Linked DNA regions of Homo sapiens: region 1 is linked to region 2. The links come from fine-mapping of genetic effects on gene expression. Tissue or cell type: lung. Region 2 holds a variant in brackets; the other region holds the start of a gene. All regions are shown on one strand. Distances are from middle to middle.

Evidence for each region. PIP is the estimated chance that this variant, and not a neighbour inherited with it, causes the effect. A credible set is the group of variants that fine-mapping cannot tell apart.
Region 1: it holds the start of AMER2, and the variant in region 2 is the best candidate, but not a certain one, in a credible set for the expression of AMER2 in lung (TOPMed, PIP 0.71).

Annotation. Positions count from the first base shown.
Region 1 is chr13:25,168,926-25,177,106 of GRCh38, forward strand. AMER2 (APC membrane recruitment protein 2) reads right to left here and starts at 3,363. Exons shown (of 1, transcript NM_152704.4): 1 at 1-3,363. The coding sequence starts at 2,694. The coding sequence ends at 679. LINC00463 (long intergenic non-protein coding RNA 463) reads right to left here. Exons shown (of 4, transcript NR_120428.1): 2 at 7,751-7,924; 3 at 4,988-5,162; 4 at 3,899-4,397. RefSeq lists a silencer at 1,853-1,942 and an enhancer at 4,222-5,421.
Region 2 is chr13:25,113,050-25,121,230 of GRCh38, forward strand. LOC124900613 (a long non-coding RNA gene) reads left to right here. Exons shown (of 3, transcript XR_941762.3): 3 at 4,096-4,178. It overlaps LOC105370120 (a long non-coding RNA gene), which reads left to right and starts at 4,170. Exons shown (of 3, transcript XR_007063728.1): 1 at 4,170-4,248; 2 at 5,529-5,654; 3 at 5,776-6,386. The variant C/T (reference allele first, on the strand shown) is at 3,481.

The DNA.
Region 1 (8,181 bases), 56 kb after region 2:
AAAACTCGCCTTTATTTTCCTAGTGTTAGATCCTTATCAATTTGCATATCTAACAACTGAACGTAGGGAAGTTTTCTGCCAATCAGTGGTCCCCTCTGCTCATCAGGTAAATACCTGGCTCTTTCAGCTTTGGAGGTATTTTCCACACAGTGATACAGCAAAGGGTTTTGTTTTTGTTTTTGTTTTTTTTTAACTGGAAAGGAAAGAGGAAAGAAGGGAAGGAAGGAAACGTGTCTTGGAAGAGGAGATCTCCTCTGGTTCTTCAGCGGTTCCTTCAGGCCTCTAGACACTGGCTTATCCCAATATCCAGGCATGACTCTTACTTAGGTTTGGCTAAGTTCTGTTTTCTGCAAAGGCAAGTAAAGGTGACTTCCAAGTGTTCAGTATATTAAAGCAAAAGGAAGAAAAACTTAAAGGTAAAAAAGAAAAAAGTGCTTGAAAATAATTCTCAGGGACTTATCTTGAGAGGAGAAACCCCCGTGTAGCATCCCTCTTTCTGGTGTTATCCGGTCCCTGCTCAGGGCACAAAGACCTCCTCGGTCCACGCTCTGGAGCAGGGCGGGGGACGGGTGGTGTCCTAAAAGACTTTCTTTAGGAAAAGCAAAACTTACTTTAGTGGTTTCCAGGGAAAAGTTGTATTCCTTGGCATGGGGCCCATCCACCTTGGCCTGGAAGACCTCACAACTTTTTGGCACTGTCGTGGCAGGCCGTTGCTCTGATGGTGGTCCCAGCCAAGCCCCGGTTGCTGACTCTGCGGACCAGCACTTTGGAAACCGGGATTTTTGTTCTGGGCATCTCACTCCTGGAGGGTTGCTGGTGCACCACGGGATGGCTAGATGGAAGGTTGGTCAGGTGCTTGATGCTAATAGGGATCTTAGAGTCCTTCAGCAAGCTGCCTGGTGTTCGCAGTGGACAGGTGATGGTGCCTGGAGATACGGGCTTTAACCGGGACAGGGAGGACGTCTCCTCGTTGTCCTTCCCTCCAGGAAGGGTTGCTGGACTTCCGTCCGGGTCAGCATAGAGATCATAGAGCGCGTCCCCGCTGTAGCTATCCCGGGGGATGCCCGCCTTCTTCCCGCTGCTCGAGCTGTCTTCCTCTGGGCCTGGCGTGGTGGAGTCCCAGTAGCCCTCGTCGCTGTTGGGGACGCCTTCCTGCTGCTCCTTCTCCGGGTGCTTGGGCTCCTCCTTAGGATGGGGCTCGATGGGAATCCGGTTGAGCCTCCTGCGCTTGACCGAGGACGCGTCCTTGGCCGCTTCCACACACCTGGTGTCTTTGGGGGTCTCGGGCACCACCTTGGTTTCCAGCGCAGCTGCCACCTTAGCCGCGCCCTCCTGGGGCTCGGGTCCCTGCTCCTCGGTCTGGGAGAGCATGTCCCAGAACTCCTGTAGATAGGTGTCGTCCACCTCGTCCGGGCTGGCCATCTCTTCCCCGCCTCCTTGGTAGGCCACCACGCCGGGGTTCTTTTTAGACAGAGCCGGCTTGCCTGGCCCGGGGACATGCTTGTCACAGCTGGGACCTGCCTCTTCCTCTTGGTCTGCAATAATATCTCCACAGCCTGTAAGAGAGTCAAAGCTTTTCAGTGAAGTCACGTCAGAAAACATCAAACAAATACGATCTGCCGACGGGTCTGAGGGTGGATCGACAGAGGCAGGGTCTGGGGCGGCGGGCGCCCGGCCGCTGCCGCCTTCGGAGTCGACAAGGGGGACCGTCTTTACGGGAACGGCCCCCGTCCTGGAAGCGTCCTCTGCCGTGCGGACCTCCCCGGGCCCCGGCTCGGCGCGCCGATGCCCCGCGGCGTCCTCTCCCCGGGCGCCGGTGTCGCCGGGGTGCGCGAGGCCCTCTGCCTCTCGGCAGCTCCGCGCTGGGGCGCGGTCGGCGGGGGCGGGCACCTCCTCTCCCCCTGCGGGCTCACCTGCTGGGTCTCGCGGGGCGTCCTGGCTGGGCTCCTCCGGCTCGCGCGCGGCTCTGGGCGTCTCCTCCTTGACGCACTCCAGGCTGGCGGTGAGCGAGCCGGGTAGGATCAAGCCGCCCCCGGGCGCGCGCCCCTCCGCGGCCTCCGCCTTGGCCCGCTTGTCTTTCCTGTGCCAGCGCATGCCGCTGAACAGCCCCCGCAGCCCCCGCTTTTGTTTGCCGCCGGCCTTGCTCGCGTCCACAGGCTCTCCCTTGCCGTTTTCCGAGCGCCCGTTCTTCTTCAGCAGCGAGAAGAAGCTGTGCGACTTGGCCACCGAGCTGCTGGCGAGGGAGCCCCCGCCGGGCCCTGCGGCTCTGGGGGGCCCCGGGTTCGGCCGCCCCCCGCCGCCCCCGCCGCTGTCGCCCCCGCCGCGCGGCTCCTCCTTCCTGCCGCTCTCCAGCACCAGCACCTCGGCAAGTCCGTCGTGGGTCCTGCTCCTCACCAGCCCCGTCGGACCCGAGCTTTTCCCGTCCCCTTTGTTTTTGACCCCAAAAATGCTGGGCATGGTGCCACCCGATTTCCTCTTCTTGAATAATTTGAAGGCAGCTTTATTAATCTTCCCCGACGGCGGCTCGGCGGCCGGCGTTTCGGCGGCACAGTCACAATGCAAGTCCATGTCTGCCGCGAGGGTCCCGGTCCCGGCCCCGGCCTCCGCCTTCCTCCTGCAGACCCCCACGGACGCGCCAGCTCCGCCGCGCTCGCTGACAGCCCCGCCGCCGCCGCGGCTCCGGCTCGTCTCCATGGAAACCGCGCGGGATAAGCCGCTTTCGTCAGCAGTGGGCTCGCGCCAGGCCACTGTCACCCGTATTCTAAATCAACCTGAGCCGCGCTCGCCGCCGCCGCTGCAAAAGAAACACACATAAAAGACCATCTTCCCTCCCGCAAGGGCTTATATAATACCCTAACCCACTTCCATCCGACTTGGCTCGGCGCTGCATGGCGTTTTTGTGGCAGGAGCAGGCAACACAGCCGCGAGCTGATTGCAGAAATTCGAGTCGTAATTATGGAATTCAAATTCCCTCAACTCTCACCCACCTTCGGATTCCTTCTCTAGACTCGCTCTTCACGGGAGCGCAACCATGGATCACGAAATGCCTCTAAAAACGACAACGCAATTCAACCCACCACAAAATGCTTGTTTTTCTTATCCTCTCTCCTAGACTCCCTGCATCTTCATGCCTTTCCCAAGCCCTTCATGTCTGTCCTTAGCATTGGTGCACTAAGCCCAGCAGGCAGGAAGCATGTCTGCCTACATCCATGTCTTGTCCAGAGCTGAGCACACGCTAGGTCCATGCTGTGTGGCTGTCATTGTGGTTATGGTTCTTGTGACAAAAGTACACGCCACCACTCAATCAGTCTATCAGCAGCCCAGCAATGCAAGCACAACAGCTCCCCGGGGTGGAGTTTGCCTGCACCTTTGGGACAACCATGACTTTTATCCCAGACTCCAGCCACCACGGGATGAAGTCACAGATGCTGCGGCACAGCCCACATCTGATAACAATAGACAAGCTGACCGAGACACACAGGCTGGGAATCTCAGACCCACTCCACAGGTGGGCCTTCGAGTCCGGGTTCTGCCCTCTCCTTTCCCACTCAGCAGGACAGTGGCATTATTCCTGTCACTGCGGTACCACTCCCCTCCCCCATACCACCAGGGCTGACTTGTAGTCCCCTTCCCCAATGTACAGAGCAGGAAAAGCTTGGCAGGGGTCCCTGTGTGTCCAGGGATCTCTGCAGACATTCCTACCTGCCTGGTCTGGGGAGAGGGAAAACCTTTTTTCTGGGAACAGCTCAGTCTAGGGATCTGTTCTGTGTTCTGATTTAAAAAGTGACTGCTAATATTCTAATCTTGACATCTGATTTCATAATCCCAGCTGAGTGCTTTTTAGCAAAAAGAAATTTGGAGAAGCATATACATATATAAATATAACATGTATATATAGTATATATTATTTAATCATTTGATTATTTATTAAATATCATTTAAGAATATATGTAATAATTACATATATACACAAACAGTAGTCTTTTCCCTACTCATTTTTTATATGCTCTTTGCATTAGGCCAATAAATCCCAATCCCCATCCACATAAGTTGGCGTTTTATAAATGACGTATGTTGGCCATTGCAGCTTCTGTTGTTATGAGATACAGCTGGTTAAAATTTAGACCTTGGAGTTCTTAGTTGTATTATTTCCTTTTTTTGTTTATTTTTTTCAAGAACACTGTTTTGTAAAACGAAGAAATCAATGAGTTCAGGTTCAGGAGAGGTTGTCACTTCCAGACTCTAATCCCATCAACTCTTTCTCACTATTGATGAGCATCTCTCCTGGTACAGGAAGTAAGGTGAGGCCAGAGAGAGGCTTTCCCGGATTCTAATTGACCGCTTGACATGATGAATCAGAGTCCTCAGTGCTTTCTGGGGAGACCACGTGTAAGGAACTGTAAAGAGAAACCCATTTGTTACGTCTTTACAACCTTTTGAAGAACAATAGAAAGTCTCTCAATTTTACACACATACACACACACACACACAAACACACACACACCCATACAGTTGCTTAGATTTGTGGGTTACTATGTAGCTCTGTCAGTTTGGAAGAGTTTGTGACTGGGATCAAGGAAAAGTAAGTCGCCTATTAAAAAATCTCCCTTTCTCCACTGGGAGAAAGTGGTCTGCTTATTCACCCATCAGGACAGGTCAAATGTGACTCTAATTTACATGAGAATCTTTGGGCCTCCTGGGAGAAATCTGATAGAGGACTTTGGGATGGATATCATTCTTTTGGGACATCAACACTCAAACAAAGAGAAAGAGACAAAGCTGTCTTCAGCCTGCGGAAGGTGCCCTCACTGTGAGTTACTGGCCCTGAGATAGAAGAAAGCAGGGACCCCTGGAACAATCTGAAGGCACTGGGCATGGGAGCTGTAGAGGCTGCGGTGTGAGTGAGGACCCTCCAGCGTCCTACTCAAAGTCCTTGTTACAGAGACAGTGGGAAAAACGAGGGTGAAGTCAGCTGAAAGGAACTTACCCCAAAAGCCAGACAGGTAAGGAGAGACTCTGTAGGGGAGAGAGATGAGGCGCAGGATGGTCCAATGGTTTGTTGGTTAGAGCCAGGTTATGAATCATCACAAAGACTGAGCCATACCTTATATTAAACTTCACAGTCAAGAGTGGAGAAAGCAAAATGGTGATTTTTTTTTTCCCTGAGAGACAGAACATGACAGTGAAGATAATTTTACCGTAAGCACTCCCATTTTTGTTTATAGTTTCTTCTTTCATTCTTTTCCCCCATCCTGCCCCAGCTTGGGAGTGAATAGAAAATTAGAGTAGAAAGGAATAGAGAACAGGACCGAGGGGAAACATTTCAGGGAAAAGCCATTCCAAAACAATAAGACGTATCACAAATGCAAACAGCAAGTGGATTTTGCTGGAAGACATGTGTGGGCTTTTCTTTGTTGGCACCAGGAAGTATTTGTCGTTTTGTTGAGGCTTTTTTCTCTAGGTAGTGAGCTTCTCTGGAGGATGGTACTCAAAAGGAAAAAAAAAAAACAAGAGAAACACAGGAAGAACCATTTGAGAACTTAACGTCGTCGTCATCATCATCATCATCATCATCATCATCACATCATCATCACATCATCATTTCCTTTTTTAGGGTGCCTTCAAAGCAGTCCAGCCCTTTGCCCAAAGCTTACTGGGTGGAATTTCTTTCTTTCTCTTTCTTTCTTCTCTTTTCTTTTTCTTTCTTTCCTTTTCTTTCCTTTCTTTCTCTTTCTTTCTCCTCTCCTCTCCTTTCCTTTCCTTCCTTTCCTTCCTTCCCTTCTTCTCTCTCCCTTCCCTCGCTCCCACCCTCCCTTCCTCCCTCCCTCCCTCCCTCCCTCCCTCCCTTCCCTTCCCTTTCCTTCCTTCCTTCCTTCCTTCCTTCCTTCCTTCCTTCCTTCCTTTCTTTCTTTCTTTCTTTCTTTCTTTCTTTCTTTCTTTCTTTCTTTCTTTCCTTCCTTCCTTCTTTCCTTCCTTCCTTCCTTCCTTCTTTCTTTTTTCCCAGAGTCTTGCTGTGTCACCCAGACTGGAGTGCAGTGGCGTGATCTCGGGGCTCACTGCAGCCTCTGCCTGCCAGGCTTAAGCAATTCTCCTGCTTCTGCCTCGCCTGTAACTGGGATCACAGGTGTACGCCAACAAACCCAGCTAATTTTTTTTTTTAAGTAGAAACGGGGTTTCACCATGTTTGCCAAGCTGGTTTCAAATTCCTGACCTCAAGTGATCTGCCCGTCCCGGCCTCCCGAAGTGCTGGGATTACAAGCATAAGCCACCGCACCCAGCACTGGGTGGAATTTTCTATCCTAGGTGAGCCACCGAGGAGCTTCCCTTTGAGCTGCTGTGTGGCTGCTGCTAAGGGACTTCTCATATGTCATAGCATTGCTGCTTAAGGAGGCTGCTAGCTTTACCTTAAACTTGCTGTGGGTCTTTAAAGGGATAATGGTTCATCAATACGGTTTGGAAATAATACCTGAGTTGAGACTACCACCTCCCATCTGCAGACCACTTGGCCAGCTCCTGACCTCACCCCAGGCTGAAATGTCTACCTCCCTGCTCATGTCCATTCCCACCTGGGATTATCCTCCAAGGTGGACTTGAGAAGCTGTGCTGCCAGTGAGAACCCCCAAATGTCCAGCCCAAGTTCCTCTTTATGAGATGAACAGAAAAAAGCTCAGAGCCACTGGTCTTAAAGTCCCCTGCTGTCCACTGTCTTCCTGTATCTGAGGCCTGTCCTTGCCCTCCATGGGCCTCATGGAAGCTGAGACCACAATGTGAAGTGCACAGGTGCCAGGAGAGAAATGTGTGGACGCTCCTTGCAGAAAGCCTGGCACCAGATGCAATGCTGCCGGCATGTTCCCGTGACCCCCTTGCCTGGGAAGCTGAGGCTGGAGGCTAGGATGAGCAGCATGAGGGCTACAGGTCTGAGAATACTAGGCCCTGAGCTAAATTGAAGTTCTTGTGTTTTCTTTAGCATATTTTGATTCCTGATTTCCCCAAACATCAGCTTTCACTATGAGTTAATAGCTGTTCTGGATATATGCTTATTAAGAGGATAAATTTATTTCTAATTAGTAATATGCGATCGAAAAGCCCACTGCAACTCATGATTTTCCACATTAACCCTAGTGCACAGTCAAGGCTGCTAGGAGAAAGAGCCCATCCCAGGAGGAGCTACAACCCCATGTAGCCTGCAGAGTAAAGGAGCAGCTCAGAGGGGAGGTGTTCCAAGTTCATAGGACATTACCTTTGCCCACCTCCCATGGGTTTGTACCTGGATTCTAGGCAAGGGGAGTGCCACAGAAGACCAAAAAAGGCAAAATGAGCTTTTCCCTGTAATGCTGGTAGGCACCAAGGGGGCACAGGCCATGTGGCAGCTGACAGCACTGGTATTTGGGCAGTTTCCATGTTCCCCCCAGGCTTCCAGTTGTTTAATCTTTGGAATCCATTAGCTTCGAGACACATTTTTCCAATCTCTGCCTCGGTCTGAGGCGGAGATGTTATGTTCCCTCTGCGTGCCTGTCTGTGTCTCTTTACCTCTTCTTAGAGTGACACTAGTCACATTGATTAAAGGCCCACCCTACTCCAGTATGACCTCATCTTAACTTACACCTTGGTTACATTTGCAAAGACCCCATTTCCAAATAAGGTCACATTCACAGGGACCTGGGGTTACGACTCCAGCAGATCTTTTGGAAGACACAATTCAACCTACAACAAACGACATCACCAGCAACGGTGACAGCATCCGCCTCACCTTCAGTCCTTCAACGCAGCCGCCAGGACCCTTGGCACAGACAAGACTGTCCTTGGGCTCAGTCATGAGTGGGTTCAAACTGGGCATGAGCTTCTTCAGCAGGTGTAGGCCTTCAGCAGGGTTCGGGGTCACTGATGGCACTTCTGGGGTTGCCAGCAGTGTGGGACAGTACCACTGCCAGCCAGAGGAAGCAAGAAGGAAAACAGTGTTGACCAAGAAGGGTAGATCTTGGCGTACACATGTGACACCCTGGGGTCTCTCAGGATTTTCTAGGAGGAAACTAAGACGGGTATCAAAGTTCCCATGTAGTGGATAGGGTAGAACAAGAGGACTACTGTTGCTCTTCCTGTTCTCTAGTCCCTGCATGGAAGCCAGAATGGCCTGGGAAACATGTCACACCATAACTGCTCCTCCCAATAATTCCCTTTTCT
Region 2 (8,181 bases):
GTAATCCAGATGAACTGGCATTCATCCCAAGTGCAATTTCCATTACTCACGACAATCTGCTAACATAAGGTGCCCTGTGCTTCAGAATTAGCTTCAGGCTTTGCCAGCTAGAAACAGCCAGCCATAGACTGGCTTGCTTTTAAAAATATCACTTGGCTACGATACAGACCTCTAATATAACAGTTGTCTGCAGTCTTAATATAAAATGAAATTAAGTTGAAAGAACTTTCCAACTATGTGAGATCTGTGATCCATATTTATATATCAGATGTTTATAGTATATATAATTTATTCTTAAAGTATAAACAATATATTAAACTATAAATATATATATTTACATATACAGACATTCTAATACAGGCATTTATTTAATAAGCTTTGCATTTTTGTATAGTAATTACTATACGAAATATATTCTCATTAATATAAATAGACTTCGGTCTATTTATATTAATGAGAAGAGCATATGCAATCCTACTGAATGACATCTTTCTAGGAGTAAAATTAACTCTTAAACTATCACTAAAACAACCGAGTTAAAGCTTCCCCCGTCTAAGAAAAAGACAAGTGTTGGCCAGGCGCAGGGACTCACGCCTGTAATCCCAGCACTTTGGGAGGCCAAGGCAGGCAGATCACGAGGTCAGGAGTTCGAGACCATCCTGGGCAACATGGTGAAACCGTATCTCTACTAAAAATACAAAAATTAGCCGGGCATGGTGTCGCGCACCTGTAATCCCAGCTACTTGGGAGGCTGAGGCAGGAGAATTGCTTGAACTCGGGAGGCCGAGGTTTCAGTGAGCTGAGATCATGCCACTACACACCAGCCTGGATGACAGAGCGAGGCTCTGCAAAAAAAAAAAAAAAAAAAAAAAAAAACAACAACACCAACAACAAAAAAAACAAGTGTCCTTTCTGAGAAAAAATATTAAGAACTTTTCCTCTTTACTGAGAGTCTACAGTAGACATGAGAAAACCCAAATTGCAGTTTCACAGCTCTTGTAGCAAAAGCAAGTTTTCAAGCAGCAGATCTTATTCATTATTGAAGCAAAGATTTCCAACAGCATATGCAAGATGTATTTTCTGGAAATTGGGACATAACACCCAGCACTTGAATTAGAGACCACAGGAAAAGTGTTTTTTTTCTGTTTCTCCACCATACGATTCAATCATATTGAACAAAAGACTCATCCTGTTGTTACTGTTCTACATACAGTGAATATTTTTACTGGTAGTGCAAAGTAATACAGGCTCCAGTAAGAGGAATTAGTCCCGCCAAAGCCTGACTCCTGGGTGACAGTGTCCCACTGCTGCCATCTTCTGGAGAGTCCAGGCTCAGCAGCAGTGAGCAGATGGTTTTAAAATTCAGATCACCTCCAGCTGATTCACCTCACTGACTGACAAAGCCAGCCCTGCTGCATTTGCGGGTGTGGATGTGGTTACAGGAGGAAAAGGCTCCCTGAAATGGGCTGAAATAATGAAGGCTTGATCTAGGAGGCAAGGCATCCTTCCTGATCTGTATTATAAGTGACTACAATAGCTAATGAGTGGAACCCGTCTTAGATATCAAAACCCTAACTTGTCTCCCTCTTTCCTTCCGCCATTGAAAACAGAAATAGGTGCGGAGCCCACAGTATCCTCTCCTGGGGCCCCAGGCCTGCCTCTGCATGTTTTCAAGCACAGTGGCAGAAGCACGAGGCCACCCGCCCACCCTCAGCTAGAGGGAGCCGGCTGGGGCCCCAGGACCCCAGCCAGGATGGCGTCTGATCACCAGAGGGCTGGGTGTCTTCCCTGTCCAGTTTCATGATGTCAGGGTGCTTGATAGGGTTGTTGTCCAAAAATAAACTAATAATAATCAGCGCTGCTTCCTCTTCCTCCCTCTGTGCAGTTTCAGAGCCCACTTCCTGAGAGCTCACTGGACAAAGGCTCCATGCCCACTCCAAGGGTTGGCCCTGGTCAGCCCTCTCTTCTGTTTGGGCTCTCTCAACTCAGTAACCCCACAGGAGGTGGTGTCCTCAGAGGCCCAGGGAGTGGTCCCAACCCACTTTGTAAACCTTGGGCAGTTGCTGAAGGCAGATCTTCCGCCAAAGGTAAATACTGGGTGGAATTCCCAATACAGGAGGTCGCCTGGGTGCAAACTTGCCCTGGAAATACATGGAAATGCTCCCTGATCTATCAAGTCACCCTTCTCAAGATTCAGAAAGCTTCAGTGACCCAGAGGAATACCAAGGGGGAAATGGTGAGATGGCGGGGCTGTCTGCTGTCCTCCTGCACCTCCTCACAGTCTAGTCTCATCTTCTAAGCACCCACCACAGGTACGCGCATGTGCGCGCGCACACACACACACACACGAACTCAGAGACACTCCCCCAACACACACACACACACACACACTCACACACACAAACTCAGAGACACCCCCCAACACACACACACACACACACACGAACTCAGAGACACCCCCCAACACACACACACACACACACACACACACACACACACACACCCCGCCCTCTCTTCTGCCTTGCAGTCAAATATGTGAATCCTTGGATGACACAGAAAGGATTTATTTAACAGGAGACTGAACATTTTGAACATGGAAATGTGAATATCTGTGAACACTGAATAGGCTAGATTAGTAAGAGCAGAGACTGGAAGAAAGGCCAGGTGGGTGTCTTCTCCTGTCTTTTCCTTCTAATTAGCATTCAGTCAGACTGTATAGAGGACCTGCTACATCCTGGGGATGATTCACACATTGTCCCTGCCTCCCAGTTACTCCTCCTCTGATGAGGGTTTGCAAACGAACTTTCTTCCATCATTTATCCCCCAAAACATGTATCAATTGATATCGTTACTTGCCAAACATAAAATAACATAAGGACATGAATTCTAGAGGAATTTTGTTTTGAGAAATGAAAATATAGATTTCAGAGGCCACTGGGAAAGGAAGATTTACAGGACCAAATAACTGACAAAAATGTTAACTTGCCAGAGAAGAAAGACTCAAAAATGTTCCATTGACATAAACCTAGATAACTAGGAGAATGAGAGTGCCTGTGTAGGGGAGTGAAAATAATTTTCTCCTCCACCCTTCATAGGTTTCTAGCTAGGTCTCCCTGTTAGGGGCGTTCAAACCAGAGCGACTCCATCTTCAGTGAGGGCTAGGAAAAATGAGGCTGGGACCTGCTGGGCTGCATTCCCAGAAAGTTAGGTATTCTTAGCCTCTAGGTGTTTACCGTTAAGGGAACAGGTTGATAATGTTTACTAAACAGACCCAGACTTGGGAGTGTCCTGATATCCCAGTATCTTGAGAACAGAAGCATTCTTAATTTTGCTTTAAAGATAACATCAATTCTTGCAAAATAAAGTAATTAAGAAAATTAACCCTTTATCATAAACCCTTGTAGCAGAGTACATCTCCCCACAATCTTTCTTTTTATCCCATATGTAAACAGGATTTATCCTGTATATACCTAGGGAGGA[C/T]GTGTTTCCCCTCCTACTTTCGAGAACGCCCTGCTCTGTCTATGAGTAGCTATTCTTTCACCACTTTACTTCCTTAATAAACTTACTTTTGCTTTGCACTGTGGACTTGCCCTGAATTCTTTCTTGTGGGAGATCGAAGAACTCTCTCTTGGTGTCCGGATCGGGACTCCTTTCCGGTAACATCACTATGTTGCCCAGGCTGGTCTTGAACTCCTGGCCTCAAACCATCCTATAGATTCGACCTCCGAAAGTGCTGGGGTTACAGGCATAGCCACTGTGCCCAGCTGGAACAATCTTTATGAAGGTGAATTAAAGCTGTGAGGCATGAGACCAGAAAAGATGCACCAGGAGTAATGGATTTTGGTGGAGAATGAGCCACAGAAACGCGATCATGAGGCAAATGGTGGGGCCTAACCCTGCCTTCTCAGTCCTCGGGATGGGAGACCGGGCTAGAGAAGAGAAGGCTGGTGTGAAAACGCCGGGAGGGTGAGTTTTGGCAAAAATGGGGGCATCTTCAGTTTCACTTGGCACCAAAAGGAAAATTCAATGCACATTCTTTCCTGGATGTCCAAAAGCCTAATGAGGTTTTGCTTTCTTTGTCTTCTCTTTCCGGAGCCCTCATCGAGCCTCATTCTCAGCCACATCGTAAGGATTTAGAGGCCCTAAGCACTGACGACGCTGTGGTGCCACAAAAATAGACAAGCAGGGCATGTGCGCTGAAGCTGGAAGAGGCTTCTTCCATATTTTCATTGCAAAATCAGAACTTTGGTGAGTTTTTTAAAAATGTTTTAAAATGTTTGCGCCCCTGTTTTGCTGATGCCCCTGGGAATCCCAGCACGGCCTTTTCACCGACTGCTGCTTCTCAGTCTTCATGAGAGCCCAGAGCTCTGTGCTCGGCTCTTTCCTGTCCTCCCGGGCTGGCCTTGTGCTTTCGTGACTGGGTCAGGCTCCTGGGCTCTGTGTCTGATGCAATCAGTGCCACCTGAATGCCTGGGCGGCCTCAGCATACGGGAGTAGACCGGGCGGGGCCCTCGCGTGTGACACCATGGCTGTTTCAGATCCACCGCAAACCCCCCGCCCCAGTGCTGCCCCCGGTCCCCTCACACTCTGGAAAGATTTGCCGGAGCCACTCTGTCCTTTTCTTTAGTGCAGCTGCTGGCTGATAAACCTGCTCCTGCTCTCTCTAAGGCAAGGCCAAGCACAGCTCCTTTCCCCTAGGGCATGTGCCTTTGCACTGCCCGAGGCTGCTCCTTGGTCCCAAGTCCACAGTACTTTGCTTCTCAGGACAGTTTTCCATTCTCAGGTAAGCACTCAGGGGAGCTCTCCCAGTGGCACAGTTCCAGGTCCACCTGAATCCTTTCAGGAAGGACCTCGTCCCTCTGAATGCTGGTGATCACATTTCAACACAATTTATGAAGTGCACCTCGTAGGAAAAACTTAGAAAGCCTTTCCAGATCCACCAGGCATAGGCACCCTTCTTTCTTTGCTTCAAAGAAACAAAGATGGCATTTAAGCATGACATTTAAACTCTTTGGGGTCTACTCTAGAGAATTCCTCATTGTTCTGGGTCATCACCCAGGTATCCAGGAGATACACATATTGTTAAACTTCCGTTTGTTTTTCTCTTGTTAGTTTGCCTTTTGTTACAGAGAGACTCCCAGCTAGGAACCCATGAAGTTGGAGGTTTATGGGAATGTCTAGATATATTTATAAATCATAAAATTGTTATTTTGCTACTCAACTTGTTCAGGAGAAGCAACAGTGTTGCAGAAAGAGGCCCAGAGTGGGGACAGCAATCCCAATTCTGCAACCAATGGGCTCTGTCACTGTGGGGCCTTTCCATGCCTCTGCCTCCTCATCTGAAAATGAGCGGGTTGGATAGATTTTTCACTACTGTTCCTTTAAGTTCTACCATGCGGAGGTTTTTTACATTGCTACCTTCTTATGTGACATAGTTTTGCAATTAAGAACTCTCAAGTTCCTCTTTGCAGTTGGTATTTGAGATGTTAAGAATGGAAACGCTGATTCCCCTCAGACCCGCTTTGCAGATAACCCTGCATTTTACCGAGATGTCAAAGCAGGAAGTGCTTGGCTGGAACATCTGCCGACAGCCTCATCTCTTTCTGCAAGATCATGATGTTCTGCATGCTCCTGTGGCCTCTTATTTCACGTTGGTAAGAATTTTATGTTTATTTATTAACCTAAGGTAATGTGGTAAATTCCATGGTGGCTCACCTAACTTCTGAGTAAGCTTTTGCTTTATTTTTATTTTTTTCCATGTTTCCTCCTGGCAAGCTCTCCCTGCAAATTTTGAAACAACTTTAAAGATGAATAAAAAGCAGCTCAGCAAGTGAATCCCAGATCCCGGTAAGAGAGTGTCTCCCCCAACTCACATAGTGAGTGCACATCATCCCCAGAACCACCATGAGAGTGAGCCTGGTAGCGGGTAGCACCCTGCCTGTGACGAAGCCAGCACACTATGACGAGCAGCAGCTTCTAGACCCATGGACCACGGGCACTGCCAACGCTCTCCCTCCGGGGACTCCTCCTGCCTCCCATACAGGGCCAAACTCCGACGCCCACGAGCTCGCTCAGAATTGGCTCAGGCTGCAATCACTTCTCTTCTCCTACCTCCACACCATTCCCTGATGGTGGACAGCTTCTCCTTTGAGAACCACACCTGCCTTTTCAGACAAAAGGAGACACCACCCACCCTCCTGCTGAGGGCTGCTCCCCTGGGGCCTTCTCAGCACACCTCTCTCTCTCTAGGTCAAAAAACAAATTTCACATGCTGAATTTTTACCTTTTTTAAAGTGACTCCGAATTTTGGCACCAGCAATTAATTCAACACTTGAATAAGATTTGAAAACCTCACAACAAATCACAAATATATTATGGGTCCTGTTGAAGGTGGTATTGTGGTTAATGTAATTCTCTCTCTCTCTCTCTCTCCCTGTGTGTGTGTGTGTGTGTGTGTGTGTGTGTGTGTGTGTGTGTTCCTTTGTGTGTCTGGCTGGCTGTCTCTTCTGAGACAGGATCTTGCTCTGTCACCCAGGCTGGAGAACAGTGGTGCAATCACAGCTCACTGTGCCCTTGAACTCATGGGCTCAAGCAATCCTCCCACCTCAGCCTCCCAAAGTGCTGGAATTACAGGTGTGCACCACCTTTCCCAGGACCTTTCTATATTTCTTTTCATATTCATTTATTCATCCAACAAATATTTACTGAATCATTACTGTGTGTTACACACTGAGATTTCAAAGCCAGAGAAGAGTTGATTTTGGTGGGAGAAATAGGAATATAAATAAATTACACCACAAACAAAGTATTGGCTGTGCGCCTGGCACTATCAGGCAAAAATACAAAAATTCTTACTGACAAGAAATAAGAGGCCATAGTCCCAGAGCACTGGCTTAGAGTACTCCTCCCCATACTCTACAATTATAAAGGAATTATTGTCCCATTTTACAGAGGAGCAAGCTGAGGCTCAATGGGACTAATTCACTCAGTGAATTCTTCCTCCTGAAAGAAGAAAGTGGTAAAGTTGGTCTTGTCCTTTTGGCTGCAGCTAACACCCTGTCTCTCCTGACTCTCCAAAATGGGAAAGGGTTGCTTGACCCTTGAAGCCTTGTCCCAGGGTTCCTTGTGGCATGCTCCTAATGACCTCATGACAGCTGAATCTCCTGATCCTGCCCAGGGTCAACACAGAGAAAGGAGAGAAACCTAGGGTGTCTAGGCTGCAACTCAGGGACCTGTGGCTCCTGCACCAAGCATGTGAATCACCCCTTGGGCAATGGTTTCCTAAGAAAATCTGCCCTGTTCATGCATTATTTAAAAAGCAAAGGAAGAAAACAAAGAAACCCCTTAAAGCTCTTGTAATAAATTCACCATTCCCTTATTCTGTGAACTTTCATTTATTGAACACAGGCTTTGGGAATAGAGGGATCAATAAAACTCAGCTGAAATCCAAGGCAGAGCAAGATGTCTGAATAGAACCATGCAGTGATCATGCCCCCACCCTCCCCTGCAGGACATTGAATTGAGTGCAAACACACACAAGAAAACACCTTCACAAGAGCTAAAATATCAGGTAAGCGATCACAGGACCCGGTTTATCATAGTAACAAGAAAAGAGGCATTGAAGGAGTAGGAAGGACAATCCCGCATTGCCTGCACTGTTCCTCCCGCAGGACCAGGCAGCTCAATGTGGAGAGAGAATCTTTGTGCTTGGGAAAGGGAGAGGGAGGTGAGTGCGGCACTTTGCTTCAGAGCTCACTGCTGGCCCCACAACAGTGGAACATAGCACTGGGCAGACTTCTATGCCCTTGATTCCAGGCCAGTGCTCACAAATGGAACATTTAGATCGGCCCCAGGCCACAGAGGAATCCACCACCCCAGTGGGAGGAACCCAATTTCCAGCCTGCTTCATCACTGGCCAATTAAAGTGGCTGCTAGGCCTTAGTGACCGTGGTCCTTTGGTAAGCCCTAGTGCTGAACTAGTCTGAGAGGTCGTGGGCTTGGGGTGCAACCCAGCCTGACACCAGCTGCAGCAGCCATGGGAGTGCTCACATCACACCACTCTCAACTCCAAGCAGAACAGTGTGGAAAGAGACTTCTGCTCAGAAGAAGGAGAGAGAAGGTTACAGAAGATTTTGCCTTGGAACTTACTACCAGCCCTGCCACAATAAAAGACAGCACTGG